3 linked regions of the Homo sapiens genome follow. The main gene of each other region encodes a partner of the protein of the gene in region 3 in a complex. Each region holds a gene or a part of one and is shown on either strand. Other genes may lie near its edges. The genes, in order: VPS51, VPS54 and VPS52.

Region 1 (6,263 bases), on a different chromosome or scaffold from region 3:
CGCTGCCTCCCAGTTCCCTTCCCAGGCGTCCATCTTAGTCCCCCGCCCCCAGGCCCCTCGAAGACCCTCCTCCTGCTCCCAGTCGACACCATAAATCCCCGTTCTGCAGCCCCCAGAACCGGCCCCTCCTCAGCTCTCCCTCTCCAGACACCCTTCGCTGCAAACCCCCGGGTCCCTCTGCCTCCGACACCCCCAAAGCCTTCCATCCTCAGATCTCGCCCCCGCTCTTAGTTCACCCGCTCCAGCTCTCCTTCGCTTAGCCTTTGCCCCAGGTCCCATCTCTCTGCCCCATTACCCAGGGGCCCTCCGAATTCCAGCGGGGCCCGGGGGCCCTGAGTGGGGGCCATGGTCTCCGCTCCGCCGGAGAGAGAGGGCGCTCACAATAGTCAGTCAAGGAAACACTGTCCGCCCCATTTCCCAGGAGATGGACTCGGCCGCGCGGAGGATCCGGCCCCGCGGCGCCTGCACCTGCCTGGACACGGAACGCAGACAAGGACCGCTCTCGTCCCAGGGTTTTTAAGTGGAACCGCCCCCTGCCCATGCTGGGCCCAGCACACCAGCCAATCGGCGCTCGGGGGCGGACCCGACGCGGGCGCCTCAGAAGCCTCAGCTTCAAAACCCCGCCCCCGGAAAGGCCCGCCCAGCAAGCGAGAGGAGGAGGCCACACATGTTTATTAGGCCGGTCCTGACACCTGCCTGCGGGGAAGGACCACCGAGACCAGATCCTGGGTGCCATGGGGTGCAGGGACAGACCGGTGCATGGCAGCGGCTGCGCCTAGCCGCGCTCGCAGATGACCTCAACCACACTGGGCTCCATGGGCACAGGGTCTGGGCAGCGCAGGGCAGCAGAGGCCACCACTTCGTCCAGCAGCAAGTGCACGAGTTCTTCGTCGGCCACAAAACGCCACAGGTAGAGCTGCAGAAAGTGGCAGTCCACTTGCACCTGCTGCAGCCCGAAGCGCCCAAAGGTGCGCAGCCGCACACACTCCAGCAGCGTCTTCAGGCTGATCTTGATGATGCCGGTCAGCACCGACACCTGCAGGCAGGGACACAGGGATGCAGCTTGGGGACTGCAGGTGTGTGTGGGGGACACCCAAGTTCCAAGCAGGGGCCCGGGAGACATACGATGGAAGTAGCTGGGATGAGGCAGAAAGTCTCCGGGGCCAGATAAGAAGGGAGGGATACAATATTAGCGCCGTCATCTGGAGGGCAGGGGACAGGTAGGGCCCAGCAATCAGAGGCATCCCTGAGCTTGGAGTGAGGCGGGGCAGGGACCATGGGTGAACAGAAAACCCTGGGGAGGACCCAAGACTACTGTGGGGATAAGGACAAGGGCAAACAGTAATCCCAGGTCAGCACCCAGACTCAGGCTGGGCATACACCAAGACTGGGACAAGGGCTGTGGGATTTGGAGGCAGGGCACTCTGTACTACCTAAAAACAGCCCTAGAGACAGAGACTGGAGGGTCAGGGTCACCCCCAGTTGGTCACAGAGTCCTGGGGCTCCTTGGGCAGGTGTGGGGCTGCTCCAGCCAACCCTCCCCGGGATCCCTGGAAGTCTGAGTCACGTTGGAAGTCGGACCTTGTTGAACTCCACAGGGCTGAACACATCAATACGTTCAGAGAATAGCTTCTGGATATTGCTCAAGAGGTTGGTGTCCATCGGGGCACTGGATTGGGGAAGACAAGGAATCAGAGCCCGCCCTGCACCCTCGCCCTCTTTTGTCCCTTCCCCCTGGGGCTCCCCTGACCAGCCAGACCTGGGGGTATAGCTGGGGGCGTAGCGGCCCTGCTGCCGAGAGCTGCTGTACACGGAGAAAGTCCTCTTGCTGGAGTCGCTGCTCTGGGCCTTGCGAACACCCTCTTCGTACAGGAGCCCCACCTGGTGGTAAAAAGAGGTACTGCAAGGAGGCCCGAGTCAGGGGAAACCACCAGCCCATCGGTGCTGAGGATGCCCTAAGTCAGCTACTCAAGCATCACAAGGATCACAGGGTAATCACCGCGGGGCCCGCTATTTAGTAGGTACATGGTCGCTATTTATAGAACCAGTGGAGTGGGGCAAAGGCAGGATACAAGAGTTGGTCTGAGGTCTAATCTTCAGCACCAGCACCAACCCTGCCCTGACTTCCTGGGTAACCCTGAGCCTCTGCTTCTCCACAGGTAAAATAGGGGCGAAGATGTCATAATCCTGGGCTGAGAAGGAACAAGACCGTGGACATAGGCACTCCCCAGCCCGTTTGGTCTTCATCCTTGGAGACTTGTTCCCCTGGGGTTCCCTCACGGACGCCCTGGCTACAGAACTGGCCCCGTGAGAAGCCCAGATACACATGTCCCCTCCTCCAGGCAGGGACTGCCAGTGATCCTCTGCTGCCCCAGCCCCTCTTGAAGGGACAGTACCCCCAGCCTGCGTCAGGGCTACCCCGGCCAGCCTGGGCAGCACCTGCACGTCGATGGCGGTGGTATCCTCCACCACCCGCTTCATGACGGCCCGCACATTCCGGGGCTCCAGAGTGCTGAGCCAGTCGCGAGTCTCCACGCTCTTGCGCAGCATCTGTGATATGACCAGGCCCTGCACCTTCACGTAGTGGGTCAGCAGCCGCCGCGCCGTTTCCCTGGCCTCTGCACACAGCGTGCTCACGGGCGTCACTGGGAACTGATCCTGAGCCAAGGAGGCAGAGGACAGAGGGAGTGGGTATGGTGGGGGCAGCTCAGGGGCCACTGCCAACCAGGAGCTGGGCACAGATTGGGCAAGGTGGAGGCTGGGGTACACACAGGCAGCTGGTCTGGGGTCTGGCCATGAGGGCACTGTCCAGCCATCTGCATTCCCAGCAACACCATTCCCTGCCCGGCTAGGAGCTAGTGCTTCACCTGCACCAGAAACTGTTCATCAGTGAGAGTGAGGATGTAGGAGATGGTGGCCGTCTCGTAGTCCAGGCAGAGGCGGGAGAGCAGCAGGAGCAGGGCAGGTGGTGTGGCACCCCCCTTCTCCCCAGGGCTGTCGCAGAAGCTCTGAGCCGTCTGGCACATAGAGTGGACGAAGCCCACGATGAGGCCCTCACGGACACCCTGACTGCAGAACTCACCCTGCAAGAGAAGGTGCCCAGGTCCACAGCAGGTCCCCTCTTCCAGGTAAGGCTGTTAATGACCCTCTGCTGGGGCTCTAAGTGCCCCAGCCCCCTCTGCAAGGGACAGCATCATCCTACATTCTAAGTACCCCGGAGCAGCTTCCCTGAGTGGGGGCAGAGAAAGCCAACACTGGGGACCCCACCATGCCCTGCTTCTCAGCCCAGCTGCAGATGCCCTGAGCCTTCCCCACCCCCCAGACCGTGCATAAGAACCTGAAACCACACCCAGAGTGCCTGGTTTCCCCAGTTTCCCAAGCACTGGCATAAAAGGTTTTGGAGGGTCAACCAGCAGGTTGAACAAGGAACACCCAAGAGGAGGCGTACCCGGAAGTAGGGCTTGTTGGAGAAGGACACCTCTTTGGCGGTGAAAAGGTGCACTGCTGCCAGAGAGGCCTTAATGTGGCTCAGGATGGAGCTGGCCACATTGGCCAGCAACTCGGCCAGGCCAGGGCCCTCCTTCCCAGCCACGCGAGGTGCTGCCAGCGCCTGGCGGACGTCTGTCAGGCAGCCCAGGAAGGCCGCCCGGAGACCCTGCAGGTGGTGGCCCAGGCGCTCGCGGGCCACTCGTTCCACGATCTCCGTGGCAGCGTCTGCGAGCCCGGCAGCGGCCAGCAGGGCCCCGGGAGCCCGCAAGCGCCGGTGGAAGCGGTCCAGCGCCCGCACCAGCAGTGAGTTGTCACCACCACCCTGCTCCTGCGCCAGCCGCCGCTCCACCAGCGCAAAATAGCGGCTGCCCAGCTGCCGGGCGAAGGCCGCCAGCTTCTCGGCACCTGCTGGGCCCTGGGCCGCAAACAGCTCCTGGTAGGCCGCCGCCACCTGGCAGAGGCCGCCCACGAAGCCACTGCCTCCATGGTCGGTGAACTCTAACACGTCGGGAGCCGGAGGTGAGGGCCCCAGCTCGGCCTCCAGGTTTCTCAGCTCCTTCTCCAGCCGGCCGCGGGCGTGCGCCAGGAACTCCTCGCACAGCTCCTCCGCAGGCTCGCCCAGGGCCAGCAGCAGCTCCACGCACTCTGCCTGCTCCGGGGCGCCTGAGCCGCCCTCCCTGCACGAGGGAGAGGTAGTGAAGGGCAGGGCCGGGGCTGCCGGTGGATGGGGCAGGAGCAGGAAAGCAAAGCACACACAGGGCAGGGGGACAGCTCCAGGAGGGCCCAGGAGCCGGGCACAGATGGGGCTCGGGGCTGGCGGGAGCGCTGGGGTCAGGGCAGAGGGGCCACACCTAAAGCGCTGCCGCAGCTGCTGGGCCAGGCGGGCCGTGATGACCTGGCAGTCGTCCTGGATGGCGCGGAACGAGGGCAGGTGTTGGTACTGCTGCAGCACGGCCTGCGCGCGGCCCTGGTAGCGCACCGCCTGCCCATAGGCGCCCAGTTCCACGCACTTGGTGAGGCGCGAGGGCAGCTCAAAGAGGAACTGCAGCTTCCGCAGCAGCGCGTGGACCCCTGGGGGACGGAGGGTGACGTTAGCCCCAGAGCCCCAGGAAAGGCCCACTGCAGGCCCTGCCCGGCAGCGCCCACCTGCCAGCTTGGTGATGCGCTCGTGGCGGTCCTGCAGCGTGGCGCTGATGCGAGCGCTGAAGTCGGTGATCACTGCCATGTTGGTGGCCAGCCGGTCCATCTCATCCTCCATCTTCCGGAAATCGTTCTTCATCTTCCGGATGGTGTCTAGGAGGGCAGGGGCGGGGAAAAGGGGAGAGCAGGTGACTGCAGGGCGGGCGCAACCTCAGCTCCTTCTCACCCACCCCTTCACAGACGCCCCAGCTTGCTCCAGGGGCGCATGGATGATTCCAGAGAAAGGACTGCGAGGGCGTGGGTCACAGCGCACATGGGGGCGGGGGAGGGGGTTTATGTTCCCAAAGCAGGCGTTACTCACATACTCCCCGTAACCCCCTAACCCTGGTGCCCAGGAGAGCCGGCCCTCAGAATTAGTCCAGATCCGAAGCAGGCCGCAGGTGCTTAGCCAGCTGCCACCACTGTGCCTCAACTGCTCCATCAGACCACAAGCAGCCAAGGCAGGGACCGCTGGCTCCCAAGCGCATCTGCGTGTCCAGCGCACTGCCTGGATGAGGCAATACATTCTTGTTGACCCTCATCTCCTTTCCAGACCTCCCAAAGCCTTTCACATGCTTTCCGGAACATGGGCTGTCTTCTCTGAAGGGCCCTTTCCCTTTGGTCCTGATAGAATCCTGCCTAGGGAGGCTGTTTTTCCTTTCACACACCAGGTGCCTGGGAGCCTGGTCCCTTCATGCTTCTAAATCATGCCTAGATCTCCTCTCTTCAAAACCCCGGCTTCTAGGAAGACCATGCCATCAAGCCACAACCCTCCTCTTTGCTGTCTCTACTGTCCTCTGACACTCCTCTCAGTTCCCCATCACTGCCTCTTCTCCTCCTCCTGTCACCTCCTTGTGCACATCCACATGGATGAGCCTTCCAATGTTCCTGACTGTTCACTGACGGCCTCAATTCAATTCCACCTATTCTTTTTTTTTTTTTTTGAGACTGAGTCTCGCTCTGTCGCCCAGACTGGAGTGCAGTGGCACGACCTCTGCTCACTGCAAACTCCAATTCCCAGGTTCACACCATTCTCCTGCCTCAGCCTCCCAAGTAGCTGGGACTACAGGTGCCTGCCACCACACCCAGCTAATTTTTTGTATTTTTAGTAGAGATGGAGTTTCACCATGTTAGCCAGGATGGTCTTGATCTCCTGACCTCATGATCCGCCCACCTTGGCCTCCCAAAGTGCTGGGATTACAGGCATGAGCCACCGCACCCGACGAGGTCTGATGGTTTTATAAGGGGCTCTCCCTGCTTCGCTTAACACTTCTCCTTCCTGCTGCCTTGTGAAGAAGATGCCTTGCTTCTCTTTCACCTTCTGCCATGATTGTAAGTTTCCTGAGGCCTCCCCAGCCATGCTGTGAACTGTGAGTCAATTAAACCTCTTTCCTTTATAAGTTACCTAGTCTCGGGCAGTTCTTTACAGCAGTATGAACCTGGATTAATATACCTAGTAATCAATCCATTACCAAGTCATGGAAGGTCTACCTGCAACATTTTCTTTGTAAGCCACTATCATCTCTTGTCCAACAACTGCCAACATTTCCCAACTAATTTCCCTAATTCCATTGAACATACCAACAATGTTCATA
Region 2 (5,893 bases), on a different chromosome or scaffold from region 3:
GTTTTAATGATCAGTTTTGATTATTTGTGCCATCCTTTTCTGCTGTAATCACACTGAAGACCAACGTTGTAAAATCAGCAAGCTTTTGTGTTTTTTTTTTCCCCTGTGGAAATATCTGTTTCTATCTAACTATCTAAAAGGGGTTTATACATGGACAATTGCTTACCTGACGTTATGTATCTGTTTTGAGGCAGTGTGAATTAGTAGCACTTCCTTAGTTACCCAATAGCTTTCCCTATTCCAAACAGGATTCAGAAGTCCTACTGTGTGACCATGTGAATGTCACTTAACCTGTGTGCCACATTTATAAAATAACAAGGATGAAATCTGTCTTAATTCTTTCACAGGGTTATGAAAAATAATATATGTGTGTATATGTATATATTTTATTGTAAGCTATTGAAAGATTGTATATATTACTGTAAAATAGCATAGTACATAGAAAGCATAGGGTAGGACTTAGAATCTGAAAACTTGGGTTAAGTTCTAGTTCTGTCACTTACTAGCTGTTGTAACTTTGGGCAAATCACTTACTCCCCCTCAGCTTAGGTTTTTTAGATTTGAAAATAGGGATGATGATAAAAGTTTCCTTAATAGGATTTTTTGAAGAGTTATGTAGATAAAGATATGGGGAAGAGATTTTATAAAATTTAAAGCACTGATCATTTAGTTACGTATTAATATCAATTCTTTAGTGTTCTAGGGTTTTTAGGAATAAAATTTTATTTCCTGTTAAAGGAATTTCAGGCTCAAATTTCAAACTTATAAGAACAAATGGAAAATGAAAAAAATGTATGTTGGGGTCAGAAGTTGGCCCTGCCATTTAAGAAGAAGTACAGTGAATCAATTTTGCAAAGAGCTATGTGAAAGCTTCATTCTGTTGAATCTGTTAGGCTGAATTTAAGAGTTTTATGCAAGAATGATAGTCTTATTATCTGATTCTTCTTTTTCTTTTTAAAGAATTATTTGTTTTCAAAAATTTCAAAGCCATGGAACACTTAAAGGACAATAATGAACACTGAATAGCTTTTACCTAGATTTATCAACTGTTAAAATTTTGCCACATACTCTCTGCCACTTTTGCTCCTTCTCCCTCCCACCCCCATACCTCCCTTTTGACAAACAACCAAAAAAGTAGGCTGCAGTCATAAAATTTAACCCTTAAATACTTTGGCATGTGTCTCTAAAAACAAGGACATTTTTATACAACCGTAATACCTGAACCCCACCTAAGAAAATCAACATTAATAGCGTTATACCAACATAGAGTCAGATATTTTCAGCAAGAACATCACATGTGGTGACGCTGTGTATATCTCTCACTTGATGTCAGATGATACAAATGGTACATACATAAGAGACCTGCTCCTGAAAAGATAATAGCATATTAGAAACTTAGGAGACTCTTGGTAGAGATGTATACTGGGTACCTTAAAGAGGCTGTTCAAAAAAAGCTAATAATATTTTTAAGGCCTAACCCTGCTCATACCCTTTTACTTTTATTCCCATAACTAAATCTGGGTTGGTTAGTTGGGTTTTTGTAGACCAGTAGTTCTGAAGCACCCAAGCTAACTCGTTAGCTGTTACTTTTCTTTCTTAATATAGCTATTTGGAAGTCAGTCTGACCTTAGAGAATCCTCACTGTCACATGCTAACAGAAACTCATTCTTTATAAGTCAATTCATGTCTTTGAAATATCCCTGAAGATTAACCTCTACCCTGTAGCCAAGGACATAAACTACCTGCTTAAAAGTTTTTGTTTCTGAAATTGCTCTAAAAATGTAGCTTTTGACTTTTTTTGAGGTGAAATTCACATAACATAAAATTAACTATTTTAAAGTGAACAATTCAGTGGCACTTAGTGTCTTCACAGTGATGCGTAACCGCCACCTCTATCTAGTTCCAAACATTTTCACTACTCCAAAAGAAAATCCTGTACCCATTAGGCAGCTGCTTCCTATTTCTCCCTCTCCCCAGCCCTGTACTTTGATTTTATTTTGAGATGGAGTATCACTCTGTCACACAGGCTGGAGCGCAGTGGCGTGATCTCAGCTCACTGCAACCTCCACCTCCCAGGTTCAAGCAATTCTCCTGCCTCAGCCTCCCAAGTAGCTGGGATTACAGGCACGTGCCACCACGCCTGGCTACTTTTTGTATTTTTAGTAGAGACGGTTTTACCATGTTGGCCAGGCTGGTCTTAAACTCCTGACCTCAGGTGATCTGCCTGCCTCGGCCTCCCAAAGTGCTGGGATTATAGGTATGAGCCACTGCACCCGGCCCAGCTCTGTACTTTTTAATGTGATTTTTTTTCCTCTAAGATATTTTAAAAATAGACACATACAGAGAATAATAAATTATTTATATTTCTACTACCCAGAATTGATCAACATTTGTCATTTTCTCTTGAAAAAAATATTTATTGTATTTTTAAAATGGTATTCAAAAAATTGCATTCCAGATGAAGCTAAGTACACCTTTACACCCCATCTGCAGTCCGATTCCCTTTTTCTCCCAGCCTTTAGGTAACATTTCCAGTGAATTTAGTCTACATTCTTTTAGTCTTATTTATTGTACCTAGATTTATGAAAAATATGTAGTGCTGTTTTGTAAATTTACTTATATGGTATATTGCATATATGCAGCTTGCTTTCTACTAGGCATTTTTACTGATTTATCTATGTTGATATATGTTTAGTAGTCTGTTTTTGACTGCTGTACAGTATTCCATCAAACAACCTTTTTTTTTTTTTTGGAGACAGGGTCTCATGGTCACACAGGCTGGAGGGCAGTGGTGTGATCATGGCTCACTGCAGCCTCAACCTCCGTGGCTCAAGCAATCCTCCCACTGCAGACTCCCCAATAACTGCGACTACAGGTGTGTGGCACCACACCCAGCTAATTTTTTTAATTTTTTGTAGAGACGAGGTCTCACTATGTTGCCCAGGCTGGTCTTAAACTCCTGAGCTCAGGTGATCCTCCTGCCTCAGCCTCCCCAAGTGCTGGGATTACAGGTGTGAGCCACTGCTCCTGGCCATGAATCAGCCATAGATAAATTAGACATTTCCCCTAGTGATAAATTGCTAAGTCATTACTTTTTTCCATTATAACCATGCCATACTGAAGATCTTTATACATGTCTAATGGTGTGACCATTTCTTCAGGGCATATACCTATAAGTGAATTGGAGCTAATACACTTTTCATATTGTTAGGTATTGACAGTGGCTGTACCAACTCCCACATTAGTGGAGTAGTTTGTGAGAATTTGTTTCCCACATCTTTTCAACATTTGCTGTTAGATTTCCTAATTGTTGCTAGTCTGATGGGGGATAGTAGTACCTTGTTTTGATTTGCATTTTCCTGACGTTTACCATTTTTTCAGTTTATTGGTTATTCAGGTGTTTTCATCTGTGACTTCTTATGTTCTTTCCTATTTTTCTCTTGGGTTTTTAAAGAAATATCCAGTATCGCTTATATACATGAATACTAGTCTGTATTTAACGCCTTAGATGACACTTAGAAACCTAGCCTGCTTTTCCCTTGAGTTTACTATTTTAGTCAGCACTCCCATACTCTAGTGCTAACCAATCAAAAACATTTTAGTTTAGCCTGTTATTTTCTCTGTATATTAATTCATGCTGTTTCAAGATAAATCTGATTTTCTTGGGCTGAATTTATCATGAAACTGACTCTAACAGCCATTGGTTTATTCATTTTCCAAATATTTATTATTGAAGTACAGCATTAAATGGCCTACTTATTCATAGCAGGAATCCTGCTAAGTAAAGTATTTGGACACTTGGGCACTAAGAAATCTGAATTTTAGATAATAGGACTCTGACTCGGTGAGCACTGTTACTTTAATTATCTGAATAGAAAGTTTGAGATTTAAAAAATAATTTTCTCTCCATTATTTAGGTTGGTCACAGCAGATGTAGCTTTTTACACTGGAAATCTTCAAGCCTTAAAAGGCCTTAAAGATTTGGACCTAAATATGGCCGAAATTTGGGAGCAGAAGAGGTGATGTCATCCTGGAAAACTGGGTAGTTCATCTGACCATGGGATGTGTTTGTTATGAAGAAAATCTGGATGCCTGTGATTCGAGAATTGAACCTGAAACCCAAAGTGAACTGGGGTGGGGGAAGGGAAAAAGGAAAGTATCAAGTGTTGGGAAACTGGATTCAGTGGGATCTACAAGGAATGTCATTTTTGTGCATCCTACAGTGAGGAGTAACTGATCAGGTGTCTATAACATTTTTCATTCTCTCTGGAAACAGACTCAGGTTTCTTTGGACCAAATCCAAAAGAACACATAGCTGTAACACAGCTGTAGTTGACTAGAATGCTCTGTATACTTTATATTAAAAAATGCTTTGCATTTCTTCCAGTGCAATGAAATTCATATGGTGTCCCACCTTATTTAATGATGGTACAATTTAAAATCTTAGTCAACTTCTGTAGAAAGTTTTCTCTATGAAAGTAAAGCTGTTTGAAAAATTATTATTTTTTTACAGATCTTTCTATAAAAAATAAACATCTTTTGATTGCTTGGATTTAGGAATTCAATTTTTGTTTCAGTGACCAATGTCAAGTTGCAGGCTTTGTGTGTTGCATATTTAATATTTCTACTACCACCGTATGTCAACTGGGTAAAGCCTTCCAGAGCTCTCTAAATACCTGAAAGACTTAAGCCTTTTTTTAAGTAATTAATACTTAAAAAAAAAGATCCTGGCATCTATTTATGCAACTAAATACTTTTCAGAAATGGTATATAAAAGGCTACAGTTTAATATCTGTATTTTTATAAAAGTATGATGAAGGGTTTGGGGTGTTTTTATTTGTAGCAGAGGTAAGAATATGTATTCATATAATCTGCCTACTTTTGAGTTCTCATATTAACATTTAGATAACATATGAAGTATGGCCCCCTTGGATCCTTGTTTTTAAGTTACTTTCGATGTGTATACGAACAAAGACCAGGGAGAAACAGAACTTTTAAAACTATAGGCTGCTGTGTTGGGGCCAGAAATAAGGTGACAAGTAAAGACTTTTATAATACCTACCTTCAAAATTAGAATCAGCAGCACTGTACAAATAAAGTGCCTGTGCTTCACCTCACACCAAGAATCTTGCCTAACCCTGTCAGAGTGCCTAATATCCTGTGGTGATTATGTATAATGAAACAGTCTTATTTTGTGCTCTTTGGTTTCTTAAAAGGAAAGCTTGTTTTCTTTCCTTTATCATTACAGAGGTATGTCTTTGGTTCTTAAACTATCTGTCTAAAATAAAGCTGTAAAAAATTAACAGACTTTAAAAGGCAACTTTTTTTTAAGTGGTATATTGTGAACTTTAAACAAGCAGCCTACTCAAAACAAGTATGGATGAATTTAAAGAAAAGGCATAAATTGAACTACCAGCAGACCTGAATGGAAAGATTATTAATGATCATTTTTTCAGTGATAATAAACAAGCTTCAGGAAATGAAGCTTCAGGGAAAGGGAACTTTTTATGAAGCTATACCCCCTACCTCACTATAGAAGAGTACAAGGATGTGAAGAAATGCCTTCCCTTTGCCCACCCCCGTCAGCTGGGAAAATAAATGCCACTTTGTTTCAATAAATGGAGAGTTTGTGGAAAGCATGGCAGGCATCCCAGTTTTAGAACTAGATGAAAGGTAGGTACTAAAGAAAATACCTTCAGTTTAATTCCTGTGGAAATAATGGTATGATTAAGATTCTTAGAAATGCCAAAAACTGGACTCATTAAGTACACACTGGCTAGGTAACTAGCCAGTGTGTACTTAAAGGGCAAATCTTCCAACTAATATAGTAACTGTCTAACAACAATAAACCAGTTTATAGTTAGCATTATAAAGTACCAGTGTACACAAGTAT
Region 3 (7,114 bases):
ATAATGTCCATAGCAGGTGGATGGGCTGGGGTGACCCACCCTATTTACCATATGGGTCTCCTGGCTCCAGGTTAAGTGCTTTTTAGAAATTAGTAGCCAGGTTAACCACCATTTCTTTAGGTATGCATTAGGCATCAAAGATTAAGATTAAGAATGATGTAAGATCAGGTGTATAGTGGGGAGGTCCAGGAATAGAAAACTTTGTACATGTGTCCTGACTATATGGTACAATGCAAGGTGGTAGAGATGACAGGGGCTGGAGGTAAGGAGTGTGGTCTGGGTCTGGTTTAGGGATGTCTGGGTCTCCCTTGTAACTCATCCCACCCCTCCCTGCTAACCAGGGCAATTCTGGAGGCTCCAGTGACAGAGCCCAGGTTCTTGGAGCAGCTACAGGAGCTGGATGCCAAGGCAGCCGCAGTCAGAGAGCAGGAAGCTAGAGGCACAGCAGCCTGCGCAGATGTCAGAGGCGTGCTCGATCGGCTCCGGGTCAAGGTGGGAAGTAGGGATGGATACCCTGGAGGCTACTGGAAGCAGCCTTCCCAAGATCTTCACTATGGATTTCCTTGGCAGAGCTCACTGTAGCCTGTCTCCAGGGACTTCACCCTGCCTTTTCTGGGCAGCCCCATTCTTGTCTCTCTGGGTTTCCCTGAAAATCTTGAGAAATACCAAAGAGATATTCACCACCCTTCTGCCTATGTTTACCATTTGTTGCTTCCCCCAGTTCCTCTCATACAGCAAAAGGGTTGCAGCTTCATGCCCTGTGTTTGGTTCCCCACATCTAGGCAGTGACGAAGATCCGAGAGTTTATCCTCCAGAAGATTTATTCCTTCAGGAAACCCATGACCAACTATCAGATCCCCCAGACGGCCCTGCTGAAGTACAGGTCACAACCCCAAGGAAGTGCATGGGATGGCCTTTGAGTTTTTGAGCGGCCTAGTGTGGGCATCTGGTTTCTTGGGAGACAGGTAGACTGACATGTTCCTGACCCCCTAGGTTCTTCTATCAGTTTCTGCTGGGCAATGAACGAGCAACAGCAAAGGAGATCAGGGATGAATATGTGGAGACGCTGAGCAAGATTTACCTGTCTTACTACCGCTCTTACCTGGGGCGGCTCATGAAGGTGCAGGTAAGGTCAGGAGGGAGAGGTATTCCTGGGCACATGGACTGGGAGGAGGGGACATCCCTGGGCAAGGAATATTTTATTGTGTTGTGGGAAGAGACGGTTATCAGTTCTCTTTTCTCTTTCCTTAGTATGAGGAAGTCGCTGAGAAAGATGATCTAATGGGTGTGGAAGATACAGCAAAGAAAGATATCCTAGTACTGGGGAACCCTCATGCCAGGCCTTGAGAGTGGGAGGACTTTCGACTCCAGCCACCAATGCACTGCTCCTTACCTTTTCCTATGGGACTGAAACCTTTTAGAATGTGATGAAAGCTATAGCCTCCCTCCCCAGAAAGATGCACACATTATTTTGACACATAGTTTTGCATATGATTGCAAGGGAGGGAGAGACACCCTGAAGCCCATTCACAGATGTCAGCACGTGGGGCCCTAGTACTGGGAAAGAGGGCTGGCTAGGCCACGTCTGCCTGTCTGGGGTCCCCACAGATAGTGAGTCTTTGGGCCCAGTTATGGTCTCATTGTTTTCCCTGACTCTGACCCATCTTACGATTCTTCTCAAAGCCATCGCTCCGCAGCAGGAACACCATTTTCACCCTAGGAACCCGCGGCTCTGTCATCTCCCCCACTGAACTTGAGGCCCCCATCCTGGTGCCTCACACAGCGCAGCGCGGAGAGCAGAGGGTATGAGGAGGAACAAGCTTCAGTCACGAAAGAGGCTCTGAGCACGGTGGGGAGGGAAGGCCAGACCTCAGGGCAGAGCTTCCCAACCTGCAGGCCCTGTCTTAATCCCCTTAGACTTGGGAGTGGCCTTCTCCAATCACTCCAGCCTGCTGTGATGTGAAAAGAGCTGGGAACCATTGACTTAAGGGCATGCAGAGGGGAGAGACTGGATGAGGGGAATGACAGTCAGAGGCAGGTGTTGAGGTGGATGCAGGAGTAGCAACAGCAGGTGGGTGTAGGCCCTTTTTGTACCCCTATGTTCCCCCACCTTTTCAGTGCCCATTCAGCTTGCTCTTAGACAGCCCGGACCTAGATAGATGCGAAGGGTCTGCCTAGCTCTTATTACTCAGGTTTACTGATTTTCCAGCCATATCCATGGGAAGTCAGTGTTGGGGTCCATCCCTTCTGTTTTTCTTCTTTACTCCTCCTCTCCCAGTATCCATTTGAGGCCCTCTTCCGCAGCCAGCACTACGCCCTCCTAGACAATTCCTGCCGCGAATACCTTTTCATCTGTGAATTTTTTGTTGTGTCTGGCCCAGCTGCACACGACCTGTTCCATGCTGTCATGGGCCGTACACTCAGCATGACCCTGGTAAGACTCCTGTTTCCTGTACCATTCAACACCTTTGTCCCCAGTCTTCATCAGCAGCATAGTGGGGTCATGACTCTGGTAGAACTGAAATCAGGATCGCCTCATTCTAAAATGTCTAAGCCTTGGCTGGGCGTGGTAGTGCACACCCATAATCCCAGCACTTTGGGAGTCCAAGGCAGTAGGATTGCCTGAGCTCAGGAGTTTGAGACCAGCCTGGGCAACAACCTCATCTCTACAAAAAATGAAAAATTAGCCGGGTGTGTGTTGATGTGTGCCTGTGGTCACAGCTACTAAAGATGCTGAGGTGGAAGGATTGCTTGAGCCCAGGAGGTCAAGGCTGCAGTGAGCCATGCACTCCAGAGTGAGACCTGTCTCAAAAAAAAAAAAAAAAAAAAATAGCCAGGTGCAGTGGCTTACGCCTGTAATCCCAGCACTTTGGGAGGCTGAGGCGGGAGGATCACAAGGTCAGGAGTTTGAGACCAGCCTGACCAACATGATGAAACCCTGTCTCTACTAACAGTACAAAAATTAGCCAGGTGTGCGCGGCCTGTAATCCCAGCTACTCGGGAGGCTGAGGCAGGAGGATTGCTTGAACCTGGGAGGAGGAGATTGCAGTGAGCCAAGATTGCGCCATTGCACTCCAGCCTGGGTGACAGAGCGAGACTCCATCTCAAAAAAAAAACTTGTTACTTAGACTTGTCACAGTGTTACTCCCCCATGAAATCCTCAGTGCGTAGGGTCCCTGAGACTACCCCTACTGCTGACCCACAATCAGGCAATAGCACGTGAAAACTGAGGGTCCCCCAAATCTTGGTGCTCAAACCCCTGACCCAAGCTCAGCCCTGAACTCTGCTGTGATAGGCTTGTGATCATAGATCCTGGTGTGGCCAGGTGCAGTGGCTTATGCCTGCAATCCCAGTACTTTGGGAGACCAAGGCAGGAAGGTTGCTTGAGGCCAGGAGTTCGAGACCAGCCTGGGCAATGCGGCAAGACCTTGTCTCTACAAAAAATTTAAAAATAAACTTAACCAGGCATGGTGGTACACACCCATGGTCCCAGTTGCTTGGCAGGCTGAGGTGGGAACATCACTTGAGCCCAGATGTTTGAGGCTGCAGTGAACTATGATTGTACCATTACAATCCAGCCTAGGTGACAAAACAACCTGTCTCTAAAGCCGAAAACACCGGGTGCAGTGGCTCACACCTGTAATCCCAGCACTTTAGGAGGCTGAGGTGGGCGGATCGCCTGAGGTCAGGAGTTCGAGACCAGCTTGACCAACATGATGAAACCCCATCTCTACTAAAATACAAAAATTAGTCGGGCGTGGTGGCAGGCGCCTATAATTCCAGCTACTCAGGAGGCTGAGGCAGGAGAATTGCTTGAACCTGGGAGGCAGGCGGAGGTTGCAGTGAGCCGAGATTGTGCCACTGCATTCCAGCTTGGGTGGCAAGAGTGAAACTCTATCTCAAAAAACAAAAAAAAAGCCAAAAACATAGATCCTGGACAGGAAAGCAGGGGGCAGTTCCATTTTACGTCTCTCCCTTCTGTCCTGTCCAGTGCATCATCCCCAAAGAAACAAATGCGTTTGTTCATAGTCACTGAGGACAACAAACTGACATTCTCTTTTAATCCTCTGTTTGTTCCCCAATCACACAGAAACACCTGGATTCTTATCTAGCTGACTGCTACGATGCCATTGCTGTTTTTCTCTGTATCCACATTGTTCTCCGGTTCCGTAACATTGCAGCAAAGAGGGATGTTCCTGCCCTGGACAGGTCACTGAATTCTGGTCCTTGATGCCCAACAGGCCACGAACTCTCTTGGTCTTGCATGACTCTGCCCTGACCTTAGACTCCTACTGACCTGGTATCATCAACCTTTATTCCCATTCATTTGCTCCGGAGGCAGTAGTGCTGCTTTTTGACTCACCTTTCTCCAACCACTGCCCCCCAACCCCCACAACTAGCTATTGACCATTAAACTGAATGATGCCCCACTCCCTCCCATCCCCCTCCAACATTCCTTGCTGGCTGACCTCTGATTCTGATTAAGCCCACAGGTACTGGGAACAGGTGCTTGCCTTGCTATGGCCACGGTTTGAACTGATCCTGGAGATGAATGTTCAGAGCGTCCGAAGCACTGACCCCCAGCGCCTAGGGGGGTTGGATACTCGGCCCCACTATGTGAGGGAGGGCAAGGGTAACAAAGGGTTCTTGAAAGGCAGGGCTCTAAGCATCATTGTGGGGGTTGGCCAAGGTCACAGTTGTGTCATGGGCCACGCTATGAGCAGGTGTTCTGGGAGGGTGGTGAAACTCATGGTGAGTGGTGCACTGTGGGTAGGAGGGACTGAAGGTAGAGTCACATCACATGGAGGTGGGTTGGCTAAGGAAGTTGGGAGGTTGTGTTGGTTGGGCCAGGAGGTGGGTGTGATTTTCCTTCCCACTCTCTCCTAGATCACACGCCGCTATGCAGAGTTCTCCTCCGCTCTTGTCAGTATCAACCAGACAATTCCTAATGAACGGACCATGCAATTGCTGGGACAGCTGCAGGTGAGGGTCGGACAGGAGACACTTCCCAGCAGCAGGGCTGCTTCCAGTGGGTGGAGTCTGAGGAGGAGCCAGATGGGGCCCAGATGACCTTGCTTTCTGGTGTCACCTCTTCCTCTCTGCCTTTTCAGGTGGAGGTGGAGAATTTTGTCCTCCGAGTGGCAGCTGAGTTCTCCTCAAGGAAGGAGCAGCTTGTGTTTCTGATCAACAACTATGACATGATGCTGGGTGTGCTGATGGTAATAGGTGCTCCTTCTCCTTGCCTTCCTACCCAGAAAATTCGGTTTCCCCCACTGCTGTTAGCTCTGTGAGGGCAGAGATGATGCCTGTCTTGTTCAGTGTTTTACTCTTGGAGTCTGGCACAGTGTCCAGCTTAGTACAATAAGTGTGGAATGAAGGGGACATCCTGAAGTGAAGGACTGCTTTCCCCAAACTAGACATTTCCCTTTGTCTTCCCTTAGGAGCGGGCTGCAGATGACAGCAAAGAGGTTGAGAGCTTCCAGCAGCTGCTCAATGCTCGGACACAGGTAGGGGTGTGGGGAAAAGGGAAGAGACAGCCTTCTGTGCTGTTTTCAGCTCTCTCTCTCTCTCTCTCTGTGTGTGTGTGTGTGTGTGTGTGTGTGTGTAGGGAGTGGCATAATGGATCTCAGGTATGCGGAATTACTGTAACTCTTGATTCACAACATACTGTCATTATTGGTCTATTTTATTTTATTTTGTCTTTGGTTTTTTTTTTTTTTTTTTTTTGAGGCAAAGTGTCACTCTGTCACCCAGGCTGGAGTGCAGTGGCATGAACATGGCTCACTGCAGCCTCAACAGCCTGGGCTTAAGTGATCCTTCTACCTTAGCCCCCTGGGTAGCTGGGACCACAGGTGCGAGCCACCATGCCTAGCTAATTTTTTATTTTTAGAATGAATTTTATTTTTTTCTTTATCTATCCTCTCAAGCATTTATCCTTTGTGTTATAAACAATCCGATTACACTAAGTTATTTTAAAATGTACAATTAAGTTATAATTGACTATAGTCACCCTGTTGTGCTGTCAAATAGTAGGTCTTATTTATTCTTCCTATTTTTGTTTGTACCCATTAATCATCCCCACCTTCTCCCCAGCCTTCCACTAGCCTTCCCAGCCTCTGGTAGCCATCCTTCTACTCTCTTCGTACATGAGTACATGAGTTCAATTGTTTTGATTTTTAGATTCCACGAATCAGTGAGAACACATGACGTTTGTCTTTCTGTGCCTGGCTTATTTCACTTAATATAATAATTTCCAATTCTATGCATGTTGTTGCAAATGACTGAGTCTCATTCTTTTTTATGGCTGAGTAGTACTCCATTGTGTATATATCCCACATTTTCTTTACCCATTCATCTGTTGATGGACACTTAGGTTGCTTCCAAATCTTAGCTATTGTGAACAATACTGCAACAAACATGGGAGTGCAAATATCTCTTCAATGTACTGATTTCCTTTCTTTTGGGTATATACCCAGCAGTGGGATTGCTGAATCATATGGTAGCTCTACTTTTAGTTTTTTGAGCAACCTTCAAACTGTTCTCCAAAGTGTTTGTACTAATCTACATTCCCACCAACAGTGTATAAGGGTTCCCTTTTCTCCACATCCTTGCCAGCATTGCTATTGCCTGTCTTTTGGATAAAAGCCATTCTGACTGGAGTGAGATGAGATCTCATTGTAGTTTTGATTTGTATTTCTCTGATAATAGTGATGGTGAGCCCCTTTTCATATATGTCTGTTTGCCATTTGTATTCTTTTGAAAAATATCTATTCAAATCTTTTGCCCATTTTTTAATAGGATTATTAGACTGTCATGTAGAGTTGTTTGAGCCCCTTATATATTCTGGTTATTAATCCCTTGGCAGATGGGATGTGCAAATATTCTTTGTCTCTTCACTTTATTGTTTCTTTAGCTGTGCAGAAGCTTTTTTTTTTTTTTTTTTTTTTTTTGAGATGGAGTTTTGTTCTTGTTGTCCAGGCTGGAGTGCGATGGTGCGATCTCAGCTCACCGCAACCTCCGCCTCCCAGGTTCAAGCAATTTTCCTGCCTCAGCCTCCTGAGTAGCTGTGATTACAGGCATGTGCCACCATGCCTGGCTAATTTTGTATTTTTAG

What was found.
Region 1: VPS52 (region 3) and VPS51 share a complex: the UniProt entries of both Homo sapiens proteins name them as parts of the endosome-associated retrograde protein (EARP) complex.
Region 2: VPS52 (region 3) and VPS54 share a complex: the UniProt entries of both Homo sapiens proteins name them as parts of the golgi-associated retrograde protein (GARP) complex.

What each region holds. Positions count from the first base shown.
Region 1 is NC_000011.10:65,106,100-65,112,362, reverse strand, and holds the end of VPS51 (vacuolar protein sorting-associated protein 51 homolog), read right to left. Parts: intron 4,783-6,263; coding exon 4,636-4,782; intron 4,561-4,635; coding exon 4,341-4,560; exon of another isoform or gene 4,339-4,340; intron 4,167-4,338; coding exon 3,449-4,166; intron 3,084-3,448; coding exon 2,868-3,083; intron 2,659-2,867; coding exon 2,440-2,658; intron 1,882-2,439; coding exon 1,760-1,881; intron 1,670-1,759; coding exon 1,582-1,669; intron 1,037-1,581; coding exon 776-1,036; 3' UTR 501-775; downstream 1-500. Other genes in the region: delta(14)-sterol reductase TM7SF2, read right to left, coding at 296-347. UniProt on the Homo sapiens protein: Acts as a component of the GARP complex that is involved in retrograde transport from early and late endosomes to the trans-Golgi network (TGN).
Region 2 is NC_000002.12:63,891,560-63,897,452, reverse strand, and holds the end of VPS54 (vacuolar protein sorting-associated protein 54), read left to right. Parts: intron 1-3,917; coding exon 3,918-4,023; 3' UTR 4,024-5,303; downstream 5,304-5,893. UniProt on the Homo sapiens protein: Acts as a component of the GARP complex that is involved in retrograde transport from early and late endosomes to the trans-Golgi network (TGN).
Region 3 is NC_000006.12:33,261,877-33,268,990, reverse strand, and holds part of VPS52 (vacuolar protein sorting-associated protein 52 homolog), read left to right. Parts: intron 1-341; coding exon 342-492; intron 493-782; coding exon 783-883; intron 884-993; coding exon 994-1,126; intron 1,127-1,251; coding exon 1,252-1,309; intron 1,310-1,669; coding exon 1,670-1,803; intron 1,804-1,917; coding exon of another isoform or gene 1,918-1,983; exon of another isoform or gene 1,984-2,259; intron 2,260-2,278; coding exon 2,279-2,434; intron 2,435-4,090; coding exon 4,091-4,209; intron 4,210-4,493; coding exon 4,494-4,617; intron 4,618-4,887; coding exon 4,888-4,983; intron 4,984-5,111; coding exon 5,112-5,219; intron 5,220-5,441; coding exon 5,442-5,507; intron 5,508-7,114. UniProt on the Homo sapiens protein: Acts as a component of the GARP complex that is involved in retrograde transport from early and late endosomes to the trans-Golgi network (TGN).